Linked DNA regions of Homo sapiens: all the other regions are linked to region 2. Evidence: fine-mapped expression QTL. A gene starts in region 2. Each other region holds a variant in brackets. All regions are shown on one strand. Distances are between the middles of the regions.

Region 1 (4,230 bases), 59 kb after region 2:
GCCTTTTAAGGCTTTATGAGGATTTGTCCAGAACTTCACACAGGAAGAGCTCAATACATGCTTATTACTCTTTTATTATTTTCATCAATATTATTAATCCTACGGTTGTGTACCACAGAACAAATATTTAAGCAATAACATCAAAATTTCAGAAAACTAAATGGGCTAGTTACTGTATTTTGTCGAACCTAAAACGTCACCATTTGTGAGATTTTCCATTATTTTATTTACTTATTTATTTATTCTGTAGAGTTGGGGTCTCTGTCACTATATTGGCCAGGCTGGTCTCGAGCTCCTGGGCTCAAGCGATCCTCCTATCTTGACCCTTCAAAGTGCTGGGATTACAGGCATAAACCACTGCATCTGGGCATGTTCCATTATTTTACGGACTATTAAATAAATGTTTTCAAATAATAGCAAGATGCCATTGACTGCAAAATACATATTGATTTTAGTTATATTAAAATGTAAAAACTAAAGTGCACTTTAGAATTGATAAAATATAATATTTGGGCCGGGTGCAGTGGCTCATGCCTGTAATCCCAGCACTTTGGGAGGCCAAGGTGGGCGGATCACTTGAGGTCAGGAGTTGGAGACGAGCCTGGCCAACACCCCGTCTCTACTAAAAATACAAAAATCAGCTGGACATGGCGGCTGAGCGCTTGTAATCCCAGCTAATTGGGAGGCTGAGGCAGAAGAATAGCTTCAACCCGGGAGGCGGAGGTTGCAGTCAGCTGAGATCCCACCAGGGCACTCCAGCATGGGCGACACAGTGAGACTCCGTCTCAAAAAAAAAAAAAAGAATATTCTGAGAATAAGTCTACATATTGGGTGCAGCATGCACTGGGGTGACGGGTGCACTAAAATCACAGAAGTCACCACTAAAGAGTTTATGTAACCCCAAAACCACCTGTACCCCAAAAGTTATTGAAATAAAAGTTTAAAAAATTAAGCTATTATAGGCCGGGCACGATGGCTCATGCCTGTAATCCCAGCACTTTGGGAGGCCAACGCGGGCAGATCACCTGAGGTCGGGAGTTTGAGACCAGCCTGACCAACATGGAGAAACCCCATCTCCACTAAAAAAATACAAAATTAGCCGGGGGTGGTGGCACATGCGTATAATCCCGGCTACTCCGGAGGCTGAGGCAGGAGAATCACGTGAACACGGGAGGCGGAGGTTGCGGTGAGCCAAGATCGCACCATTGCACTCCAGCCTGGGCAATAAGAGCAAAACTCCATTGCAAAAGAAAAAATTTTTTTAAAAAAATTAAGCTATTATCATTACATATGTTTATTATACTCTTTGCACATAAAAGTTTATACATTTTCGGCCGGGCGCGGTGGCTCACACCTGTAATCCCAGCACTTTGGGAGGCCGAGGTGGGCGGATCACAAGGTCAAGAGATCAAGACCATCCTGGCCAACATGATGAAACCCCGTCTCTATTAAAAGTACAAAAATTAGCTGGGCATAGTGGCACACGCCTGTAATCCCAGCTACTAGGGAGGCTGAGGCAGGAGAATCGCTTGAACCCGCGAGGCAGAGGTTGCAGTGAGCCGGGATTGTGCCACTGCACTCCAGCCTGGCGACAGGGCGGGACTCCATCTCAAAAAAAAAAAAAAAAAAGTTTATACATTTTCTAACTTTTATTGTACATTTCATTTTATCAACATAAAATTAACCTTTGGTTACTAAAAAAAATATATTGATAGATGGCAAGCATGCTTCCAAACGGATTGGACTTGTTGTAGTCAATTGATGTTTATGATTTAAAAAAAAAAAAGAAAACAAAACCTGTTCATTTAAACAATCATTATTATTTCCAGGTATTTTATGAGGAAGGGGCTTACACAGACATTTCTGTAACTAATAAATTATTTTTCTGCTTCTTTAGAGTTAATTATTCACAGTTACTTTGCGTAGTTACATGAGTTAGCTCTTCCCAACATTAGTAGTATTTGTTTTGTTTTGTTTTGTTTTTGGAAAATTTTCATCTAAATCACCGTGGGATATAATCACCATTCCACATGTTGCTTTGTTCAGTTGTACAGTACCTACCTTAGCCTCTGTAAAATTTGGTAAATATCACTGCTTTCTGGTTAAGTTCTGTGGAAGAAGGCAGAAAAAAAAATTACACCTCCCATGTCCCTTGTTGAATTAAGAGTACACAGACTTCTCTTTCCCCTTTTTTAAAATAAGTATCGTGGCAGTTGAAAACAGGTGCTAATTCAGTTCATTCACGATATGAGAAAGATCAATGTACATTTGAAACTCTCTTCAGAGCAGAAAAT[T/G]GTTAAGAGTTGCGCAAAACAGAAAGCAGGTCCTTTTCTAAATATAGCAACGTCATATGACCCCACTGGTCTTTGTACTCAGAGAATTAAGGTATTAGACACATTGCTCCACGGATGCAGCATATAATTACTCTGGGGAAGAGGGACTATGACCAACGAGCACAGATATTAATATAAATATTGGGCTTGTGTCTGTCCTTTTTGATCTAAGGAAATAGACTTTTGAATGTTGCTGGGACATCCCCACATGACAGCTTGTCAACTGTGTAAACTTTCCCACTGCACACAGAAAACAGTTCTTCCATCTCTTTGGTTTTATTTTTATACCCCTTTTCACAGCAGTCAATGTTTAAACACTTTTCAAACAGTAGACTTTTTTTTGTCTATTTCCTTCTTTAACTGTGAGGTCTCAAACTGATGCTAATTCAGTTTTGTTGGTTATCATGATCATTTATGATACTAGATAGTTCTCAATTTAGGTCCCCTGTAATTAATCTCTGTGAACGTGGTGTTTTGTTTGTTTTGTTTGGTAACAACTCTTTACAGGGTAATTTGGACATGTATCCTTAAAGCTTTTAGTGCTTTTTAATTTTTTTAGTCTTTATTTTTAAAGACCATTTCAAGTTTACTGTGTATCTGGGAGAAATTAAAGATTAAATTGGGAGTGCAATGTTCAAGAGCTATCACTGCATTTAAATGTGTTTATCTGCAAGCTAAAATTCTTAACACCACCATTCTATTTTGCAGGAGGTAAGTCTTTCCAGCCAAGCAAGGGTTTGCAAAGCCGAGGTTAGTCAGTAAGGGCCGATACATATTAAAATTGAGAAAAGGCCTGTCCAAGCTTGGGGAAAAGCAGCTGTTCTCACACTGCTATCAGCATTTATCAAGGGGGAAATTTTTGTGTTAGCCCTCTGGGCCCACGGGAGGGAAGGAGTAGAAGGAAGTAACTATGATAGTTGCATATTTGAAGGAAGCAGAGGCCTCAGCTGGTTGCTAAAAAATCAATTTAAAAAATAAATGATGGAGCTCAGGCATACGGCAAGTTGTGGACTGAGAATTTGGTTTCAGGATTAGGGTGTTTCTACTTGGAAATTTACCATCCAGTTCCCTGGACCTGTCTTGGGGCATTTTTGTTGTTGTTGTTGTTGTTGTTTTGTTTTGATTTTTTTTGAGACAGGGTCTCACTGTCTCCCAGGCTGGAGTGCAGTGGCGCGATCTTGGCTCACTGCAACCTCTACCTCCCTGGTTCAAGTGATTCTCGTACCTCAGCCGCCCAAGTAGCTGGGATTACAAGTATGGGCCAGCACATCCGGCTAACGTTTGTATTTTTAGTAGAGATGGGGTTTCACCATGTTGGCCAGATTGGTCTCAAACTCCTGACCTCAGGTGATCAGCCTGCCTCCACCTCCTAAACTGCTGGGATTATAGGCGTGAGCCACCGCCCCGACTTTGGATTGAGGATACTCATTGATTAGTTTCAGATGTCCCTTATGAAATCAATTTCTTCATAAACCTTTTACTCCATATTGTCTTTTACAAAAAAGAGTACATTTCTGTACTATTATATACTTAAAATTATTTGTTAAACTATGTATTTTTGACAAATAAATCCAAAGACTCCAAATTTTAAAAAATAACCCCTCTTTTCAAAACAGCCTTCCCAAAGTTAAATTAAAAGTTGAGTTGGGGCTGGGCACAATGGCTCGCGCCTGTAATCCTAGCACTTTGGGAGGCCAAGGACAGCGGATCACGAGGTCAGGAGTTCAAGACCAGCCTGGCCAATATGGTGAAACCCCGTCTCTACTAAAAATACAAAAATTAGCTGGGCATGGCGGCGTGTGCCTGTAGTCCCAGCTACTTGGGAGGCTGAGGCAGAAGAATCACTTGAACCTGGGAGGCGGAGGTTGCAGTGAGCCAAGATCGTGCCACTGCACCA
Region 2 (4,230 bases):
TTCCTCCTTCTGTAGGCAAATAAAGACAATTCTAAAGGACTAGCTTTCCTCATCACGCCAAATCATTAAAATTCCAAACAAACAGATTATTAATCCTATTCTAACAATTAAAATAAATGATGAATCTGCCTTGGAACTACTGACAACTGTATTTTAAATAACTTACTGCCTCTTGAATTTAAATATAACCGATTAAAAATGGCAGCAACATCAGGGTTAAGAAACAAAACGAAACACTATTAGTCTCCAGAACCCTGAACAAAACAATATCTAAAATAAATATGACTTCCCAGAAGGAAAAAAGTTATCTACCATTAAGGACACACCTTAAAAGTTCTTAGCACACATTAAGTAAGCACAAACTAGTGGCTTGCCTGTTATATTTTCAGACAAAAAGCAATGAGGTTATTCCTCTGCACTTGTCACTGCAGACACATCAAGGCTTTTAGAAACTACATCTATTACTCGTTGTCTAAGTATCATAAAACTTAGCATTTTAAGTCTTGTTTGATATCAATCAAGAAAGAACATCCACTTCAGGGGAAAGAAGTACAGTAAAATAAGAACATTGTAAATCTCCTTCTTGACATATACAAAAGAGAAGGTAAAAGGCCTCCTAAGACCCCTACCTAGTGGCCAGGCCTGGACGGCAGCTGTTGCTACCTCGCCTTTTCTTTTGTTGAGCTTAATCTCATGTCAAGTCATTCAACCAACTCAAAAGCAATGAAGACATAATTGAATCAACCTGAACTAAATCAGACCTAGGCTTCTTAAAACATACAGCTTAATGCTTCCAAACGATCTAGAAAACTGAAAAACCTAGCTACGCTGTAGGACACACAGTGGCCAATAATACAGGACCCCCAAACTGGCCAGTGGACCACTGCAACCGCCATTTACTTTCTCCGTGTTTAGGAATGTTCAACGCTCCAAGCCCCATAGACTGATTCAGGAAGATAAACTGAGGCTCAAGGAATTTCGAGGTAGAACAATACACCAAAGCCTTAAACCTGAAATGACTACCCTTTTCTGGGGGGTGGGGGGAAAGAAAAAGAAAAAAAAGTTTCTGGGGCTCTCAGGGCGGCCCAGATGCCAGGGTCCCAGAAGTGGCCTTTTCTAGCTCCTGTAACTAAACCTGGCGGAAAACTCCCTGCCTGCTCACCCCACCCCCACCCGCCCAAGAAAGCGCCTTCCCGTCTTCGGTGGCCCTACCCAGAATCCCAAAATGTGGGTTCCAACCCGGGCCCTGAACATCTTCTCAAACTCCCGGGACCCAGGTTCCGGCGCGCGCCCCGCGTGCCGGGTCTTGCCCCTCGGGCGGGACCGCCCAGGCAGCCCCAAATCCAGCCTCCCGGGCCCCCAGCAGCGCCCTCCGCCTCTCCACCATCCCGTCCGGCTCGCAGTCGGGGCCAAATCGAGAGACAAGAGGGCTGTGCCTGAAACTGAGCGGTTTCACCACTCGGCACCTCCTGGCAGAAACTTCCCTTAAAAAAAAAAAAAAAGAAAAGAAAAAAAAAAGCAGCAGCACTTTTGGGCTAGCATTTCAATCCTTCCTGCCCTTTAGAGTTCCCAGTTCTGCTTCCAGCTGGCTTTGGGTGTTCCACTAGAATTGAGTTGTAAAGATATTCTTTAAGTGTTTATAGAACATTAAGACTTAAAAAAATCTTTAAAATTAGAGGAGGGAAAAAAAAAGCCACCTTATCGCACACATCCAGGAAACGCAGCCCCGTGCATCCCTGTTCAGGGATGAGCAGGCGCCCCAAGACTCCCGGGGACAGATTTTTGGGCACCCGAGGGAGTCACGGGGCGCGCGTCGGGGTCCGCGGCGAGGCCCAGCCCCTCCCGCGGTCCCTTAGAGGCGCCCTCCGCCCGGCCCGAGTGGACCGTCCCGGCCATTGTTTACGGGGGGATGCCCGTCCGGACGCATTGTTTTGGCCGCTTCCAACTTGCCCCGGCCCTTCCCCGGGCATCGCGGGGGGACCCTACGCCGACGTTCCCCCTCCGCCCGCGCCCCAAGGGCCAACTGGGCAAATTGGGAGACCCGCCCCGCGGGGCGACCCAACTTTTCGGAACAGCCCCCCACCGCCCACCCCCGCAGACCCCCGCTCCCGGCGGAGATTCAGGGAACCCCGCACCCCAAGCCCCTCTGAATCGTGCGGCGTGAGTGTGACGGCCAAGAGCGGATGCAGCCCGGGATCGCCCGCACCTTCCCGCGGGCGGAAGCGCAGGAGCCGGCTGGGGAGGGGGCGCCCTAGAGGAGCGGATAGAAAGCTGAGACGGGGAACTGAGGTCATCCTGGGGGGGGACAAGACAACGAGAGCCGGGCGCCTCGGGGGCGGCGCGGGAGCCTCCGCAGGACCGGGCGGGCGCCCCGGCTGGCGCGGGCGGGGGGCGCGCCCCCTTTACCTGCGGCTCCGGCTCCTCGGCCATTTCCTCGCGCGGCGGCGGCCGGGACTGAGCTGACACCACTCGGGCCGGCCGGGTTTGAATGAGGAGGAGCGGGCGCGGAGGGGAGGGGGCGGGGAGGGCGGAGGGAGGGAGGGAGGCGTCGCGGAGTTTCTCTCAGCCTTTTGTGCGGACACCTCCCGGATTCCGCGCCCGCACCCGGCCCCCCAAAAGACACGGGGAGCCGCGGGCGAGGGGTGCAGCCATCCGCCGAGGAGCCTAGTGCCTTCGCGCCTCCAAGACCCCCCCCCAACAAAAAAGGAGCGTCCCCCACCCCCACCCCCGCCCGGAGAATATAGGGGCCGGGCTCACCTCGGGCGCGGGGCTAAGGTGAGCGGGGCGGGGGTGCGCACGGGGGCAAAGGCGCGGGCGCCCCCTACTCGTCCGCGCGGGGACAGTGCAGGCGCGGGGGGTCCCTAGAGCCGCCGGGGCGCGGCGCGTCCGGCGCTGGGGGACTGTTGGGTCAGAAAGTGTTCAGGGAGCAGCTGTTGCGCCCTCCCTCGGCCCCGCCGCTCGGAGACGCCCCGCCCCCTGCCTTCACCGGCCGCCCCGCCCCCTGCCTTCACCGGCCGCCCGGCCACGCCCCACACCGCCCCGGCCCCGCCCCAGCGCCCACGTGACTAGCATAGGCGCGCCCCTGCTCCGCCCCCCGCCGCCGACTCCGCCTCCGGGACGGGAGCGAGCGGCGAGCGCGCGCACTCCCAGTTCTCGCTCGGCGACTCCCGCGCACGCGCGCGCCGTGCCACCCTCCCCGCGCCCCCCGCCCCGCACCCCTCCTCCCGCCATCCGGCTTAACGTGGCGGGCGCGCGCCGCGGCGGTAGCCGTGACAGGTACCCGGGGAGGCCGGAGGGAGGGGGCCGCGAGGGTGTGCGCAGGCGCAGATCCGGCCCTGTCCCCGCCGCCCCCTCCTCTGCAAGGTGTGCGCGGGCGAGGGGAGGGGCCCGCGGCCCGAACCCCTGGGTCACCCCGAATTACAAACAAAAACCTTAACGCCGTTGCTCGCGGGTTAGAAGGCAGCTGTGCGCGAAAAACACCAAAGATTTTCTTCAAGCTTGAGGAAGGTCGAGAAGATAAACAGTTTTTAAATGAGTATCTTCAGAAAGCTATTTAATTGTTGTGATTTTTTTTTTTCTGAAAGGGCTGGGCTTGCGCTATTCTAACTTGAGATTTCTAAACTTAGCCTAGGTTCCAAGAATCTACTTGGTTTTGATAGAAATCCATTTGGAGGAAACCGGGGACAAAAAAAGGGACAAAAAAAAAAAAAAAAAAACCGCTACCCTTTCCCCTCCTCCCTACGCACAACTCATTTAAAGCGTTTCCCAAATGTTTTCTTTCCTTACTGAAAAAAAGGACAAAAAAAAGATCCTGATTCCTAAGGCCTGTGATATTTCCCCATTTTAAATAAGCTTCGAGGAACCATAGACATAACAAGCACATCCACAATTTTTCTACCCCAAAATGCAAACTAATGCAAATGTGAAATGGATCTATGCAAGTCGCTACTAACAAAATAGCCAAATATTTGTGTTTTTACCGGCCTTCAGCATATCCAAAATGAAAAAACTTTAAAACACATCAAGAAAAGCATTTAAAATATCTATTTCCTAAATCAAAAGAAAGAACGCACTACAGAAACGATCCGGAGCTGGTGAGCAATGCAATCTTAATAAATAGGAAAAGGAATTTGAGAAGACAGCTCAGCAAAGGGGAAGAATTTGCCAAGTGTCATGTTTTGCTGTCATTTTATATATAACTACTAACCCCACATATGGTCTGGTTAGTCT
Region 3 (4,230 bases), 31 kb before region 2:
CACCTGGGGCAAAGTGGAGAACACAATGGCAGTGAGAGTTCCTTTTTTTCTTCTTCTTTTAATTAAATTGGGTTTTTGGGGCCAGGAGTGGTGGCTCACACCTGTAATCCCAGCACTTTGGGAGGCTGAGGCGGGCAGATCACTTAAAGTCAGGAGTTGGAGACCAGCCTGGCCAAGACGATGAAACCCTGTCTCTACTAAAAATACAAAAATTAGCCAGGCGTGGTGGTGCATGCCTATAATACCAGCTACTCAGGAGGCTGAGGCAGGAGAATCGATTGAACCCTGGGAGGCAGAGGTTGCAGTGAGCCGAGGTCATTCCACTGCACTCCAGCCTGGGTGACAGAGCAGAGCAAGACTGTCAAAAACAAGGAAGGAAGGAAGAAGGGAGGGGAAGGAAAGAAGGAAGGAAAGAAAGAAAGGGAGGGAGGGAGGAAGGAAGGAAGAAAGAAAGAAAAAAAAACTGGGCCTTTGGCATCACTGGAAATAAATATCCATATAACAGCGGTGTCATTTTGCTCTGCTGTTACAATCACTAAGCACAAGGACTACACTAGGTAATGAACATACAAGCTAGCTCAAGGAACTTTAAATTTTTTTGAATTATAAAAAATTTAAAGTTTATTAAAAGCGTTACTAATAGAGTTTCATCTTTTCTGCCGCATTTGAAATAACACAAATGTTCCCCACAGCATTTGAAATAACACAAATGTTCCATCTTTGAAAAGTTGCTCAACTATCAAAGTTGAATTTCAAAGCTGGTAGAACAAGGAACTGGCAAACTTTGTTAACACCCGTGCCACCTGGAGGTGACACTTTATGGCACTAAGTAAAATGCCCCATCATTGGTCAGTTAGTTCCATTGAGAAAAATAGCCTTGAATAGTTCAGATATTCAGTTATTGATGGTCTTCAAGAACGCACTTCTCCCCTACAATTTGGCAGAAGTGTGTTGTGCTCATTGCCTTCTTCATAACTAGAGACTGGTTTGGTTCCCAATGCAACCAAATCCTCGTTATTGCTTCAGCTAAATTCACACACATAACCATTTTGCAAAACTCACCCAGCCTGGGCAACATAGCAAGACCCTACCTCTACAAAAAAAAAAAAAAAAAAAAAAACGCACAGAAATTAGGCCGGGTGAAGTGGCTCACAGTTGTAATCCCAGCACTTTGGGAGGCCAAGGCAACAGATCACTTGAGGTCAGGAGTTCGAGACCAGCCTAGCCAACATGGCAAAACCCTTTCTCTACTAAAAATATAAAAATCAGTTGGGTGTGGTGGCATGTACCTGTAATCCCAGCTACTCGGGAAGCTGAGGTGAACCAGGGAGGCAGAGGTTGCAATCAGCCAAGATCACACCACTGCACTCTGCACCTAGGTGACAGAGTGAATTCTGTCTCAAAAAAAAAAAAAAAAAAAGATTAGCCAGGCATGGTGGCAAGCACCTGTAGTTCCAGCTGCTGGACAGGCAGAGGTGGGAGAATCCCTTAAACCCAGGTCAAGCCATGATCGCACCACTGTACTCCAGCCTGGGAGACAGAGTGAGACTCTGTCTCAAAAAAAAAAACAAGTTATTATTATTTTTCCATTGAGTTGGTCTTGTTCTGCTGCCCAGACTGGATAGAGTGCAGTGGTACAATCATAGCTCACTGCAGCCTCAACCTCCTGGGCTCAAGTGATCCTCCCACCTCAACCTCCTGAGTAGCTGGGACTACAGGTTTGCAACACCATGCCCAGCTAATTTTGTTATTTTATTTTATTTTATGTATAGACAGAGGTCTCACTCTGTTGCCCAGGCTGGTCTCGAGCTCCTGGCCTCAAGCAATCCTCCCATCTCGGCCTTCCAAAGTGCTGGGACTACAGGCATGCACCACCATGGCCGGCTAATTTTTGTATTTTTTGTAGAGATGAGGTCTCTCCATGTTCCCCAGGCTGGTCTCAAACTCCTGGGCTCAAGCGATCCACCCTCCGCGGCCTGCAGAAGTGCCGGGATTACAGGCAAGAGCCACCATCCCTGACTAAAAGATTTTCTTTT[C/CT]TTTTTTTTTTTTTTTTGAGAAGGAGTCTCACTCTTTCGCTGAGGCTGGCTTGCAATGGCACGACCTCAGCTCACTACAACCTCTGCCTTCTGAGTTCAAGCGATTCTCCTGCCTCAGCCTCCCAAGTAGCTGGGATTACAGGTGAGTACCACACCTCGCTAATTTTTGTATTTTTAGTAGAGACGGGGTTTCACCATGTTGGCCAGGCTGGTCTCCCGACCTCAGATGATCTGCCCACCTTGGCCTCCCAAAGAGCTGGAATTACAGGGGTGAGCCACTGCGCCCGGCCAAATTTTCTTTATATTAACATGTAGTGGGATTATTGTTGTTCTTGAATTTGTAAATTATTTAATAGTTTTCCATATCTATTAAGGTAAATATCAATAGCTGTAACCTATTCTTTTTTTTTTTTTTTTTTTTTTTTTTGAGACGGAGTCTCGCTCTGTCGCCCAGGCTGGAGTGCAGTGGTGCGATGTCAGCTCACTGCAAGCTCCGTCTCCCAGGTTCATGCCATTCTCCTGCCTCAGCCTCCCGAGTAGCTGGGACTACAGGCACCAGCCACCACGCCCGGCTAATTTTCTGGTATTTTTAGTAGAGACGGGGTTTCACCGCGTTAGCCAGGATGGTCTCAATCTCCTGACCTCGTGATCCACCCGCCTCGGCCTCCCAAAGTGCTGGGATTACAGGCGTGAACCACCGTGCCCGGCCAAGATTCTTTATAAAGCATTAATTACATGGCCACCTCCTTTCATCCTCTAGGACCTGTTAGGTCCTGTCCTGACCACCCAGCTCTCGTGGGTTCTCCTAATTATTCTCAGTCTCCTGCTGATTTCCTCCCCAGCCACTACAGCAGGGCCATAACTGGTCTGTTGACCTTTTCTCCCCTCCCCTCCCCTCCCCTCCCCTCCCCTCCCCTCCCTTCCCCTCCCTTCCCTTCCCTTCCCCTCCCCTTCCCCAGCCCTTTTCTTTCCGAGACACAGTCTTGCTGTGTCACCCAGGCTGGAGTGCAGTGGCACGATCTTGGCTCACTGCAACCTCCTCCCACCAGGTTCAAGCAATTCTTGTGTCTCAGCCTTCCAAGTAGCTGGGATTACAGGCGCACACCACAAAACCCGGCAAATTCTTGTAGTTTTAGTAGAGACGGGGTTTTGCCATGTTGGCCAGGCTGGTTTGGAACTTCTGACCTCAAGTGATCCACCAGCCTGGGGCTCCCAAAGTGCTAGACTTACAGGCATGAGCCACCGCGCCCAGCCATGATGACCTATTTTCAATGTCTTCCACCACCAGCAACCCCACAAAGACAGCCCCAAGAGGGTAGGAAATGCTACCTGGTTCATGAGACACATGTCCCTGGCACCCAGCCAGTACTAGCCCTAAGCGCCTGGCACTTAGTGAAAGCTCAATAAAGATATACTGAAGAAATAAAAGCAGGTAGAGAAAAGACCACCAACTTCAACCTCTCCAAAGTAGATTTCTTCGAGTCATTTGATGTTCAGCAGAAAACCGTGTTCTTTTAAAAAAAAATTTTTTTTCAGCGTTTTTTTCGTGTGTGTGTGTGTGTGTGTGTGTGTGTGTGTGTGTGTGTGCTGTTTCATTCTCCAGGAAAACAATGAAACAGTGCTAAAATCAGCCTGTGCTAGTGTGGACTGTAAACTCCTTTTTAAATAAGAAAGGGAGATATAAATAGACCTGCAAATATGCCTGTATTTTCAAAAAGAATTAATGAAAAGATAAATCAAAAATTAATTTTTAGGCTGGGCGCAGTGGCTCACACCTGTAATCCTAGCACTTTGGGAGGCTGAGACAGATGGATCACCTAAGCTCAGGAATTCAAGACCAGCCTGACCAATATGGTGAAACCCCATCTCTACTAAAAATACAAAAATTAGCCGGGCTTGGTGGCATGCGCCTGCAGTCCCAGCTACTCGGAAGGCTGAGGCAGAGAATTGCTTGAACCCGGGAGGTGGAGGTTGCAGTAAGCCAAGATCGTGCCACTGCACTCCAGCCCGGGCTACAGAGCGAGACTCATTCTTAGAAAAAAATAATAATTTTTAAAAATGGTTACTTTAGGCTGGGCGCGGTGGCTCACGCCTGTAATCCCAGCACTTTGGGAGGCCAAGGCAGGTGGATCATGAGGTCAGGAGATCTAGACCATCCTGGCTAATACAGTGAAATCCCATCTCTACTAAAAAT

Direction of the effects. Alleles are on the strand shown, and positions count from the first base shown. SD is a standard deviation of normalised expression in the study named. Not every link is listed here.
With allele G in place of T in region 1, the expression in skeletal muscle of the gene that starts at base 2,490 in region 2 is higher (small effect, 0.20 SD a copy in GTEx).

The links. PIP is the estimated chance that this variant, and not a neighbour inherited with it, causes the effect. A credible set is the group of variants that fine-mapping cannot tell apart.
Region 1: its variant is the best candidate, but not a certain one, in a credible set for the expression of ZNF217 in skeletal muscle (GTEx, PIP 0.68).
Region 3: its variant is the best candidate, but not a certain one, in a credible set for the expression of ZNF217 in monocytes (Quach 2016, PIP 0.87).

What each region holds. Positions count from the first base shown.
Region 1 is chr20:53,650,162-53,654,391 of GRCh38, forward strand. No RefSeq gene overlaps it. Among named protein-coding and RNA genes, the nearest start is that of ZNF217, 58 kb to the left of the region's middle. RefSeq lists an enhancer at 3,041-3,090. The variant T/G (reference allele first, on the strand shown) is at 2,295.
Region 2 is chr20:53,591,350-53,595,579 of GRCh38, forward strand. It overlaps ZNF217 (zinc finger protein 217), which reads right to left and starts at 2,490. Exons shown (of 6, transcript NM_006526.3): 1 at 2,407-2,490. RefSeq lists silencers at 1,201-1,440, 1,861-2,010, 2,501-2,580, 2,671-3,510.
Region 3 is chr20:53,560,690-53,564,919 of GRCh38, forward strand. It overlaps ZNF217-AS1 (ZNF217 antisense RNA 1), which reads left to right. Exons shown (of 6, transcript NR_110051.1): 3 at 2,060-2,178. Among named protein-coding and RNA genes, the nearest start is that of ZNF217-AS1, 10 kb to the left of the region's middle. The variant C/CT (reference allele first, on the strand shown) is at 2,037.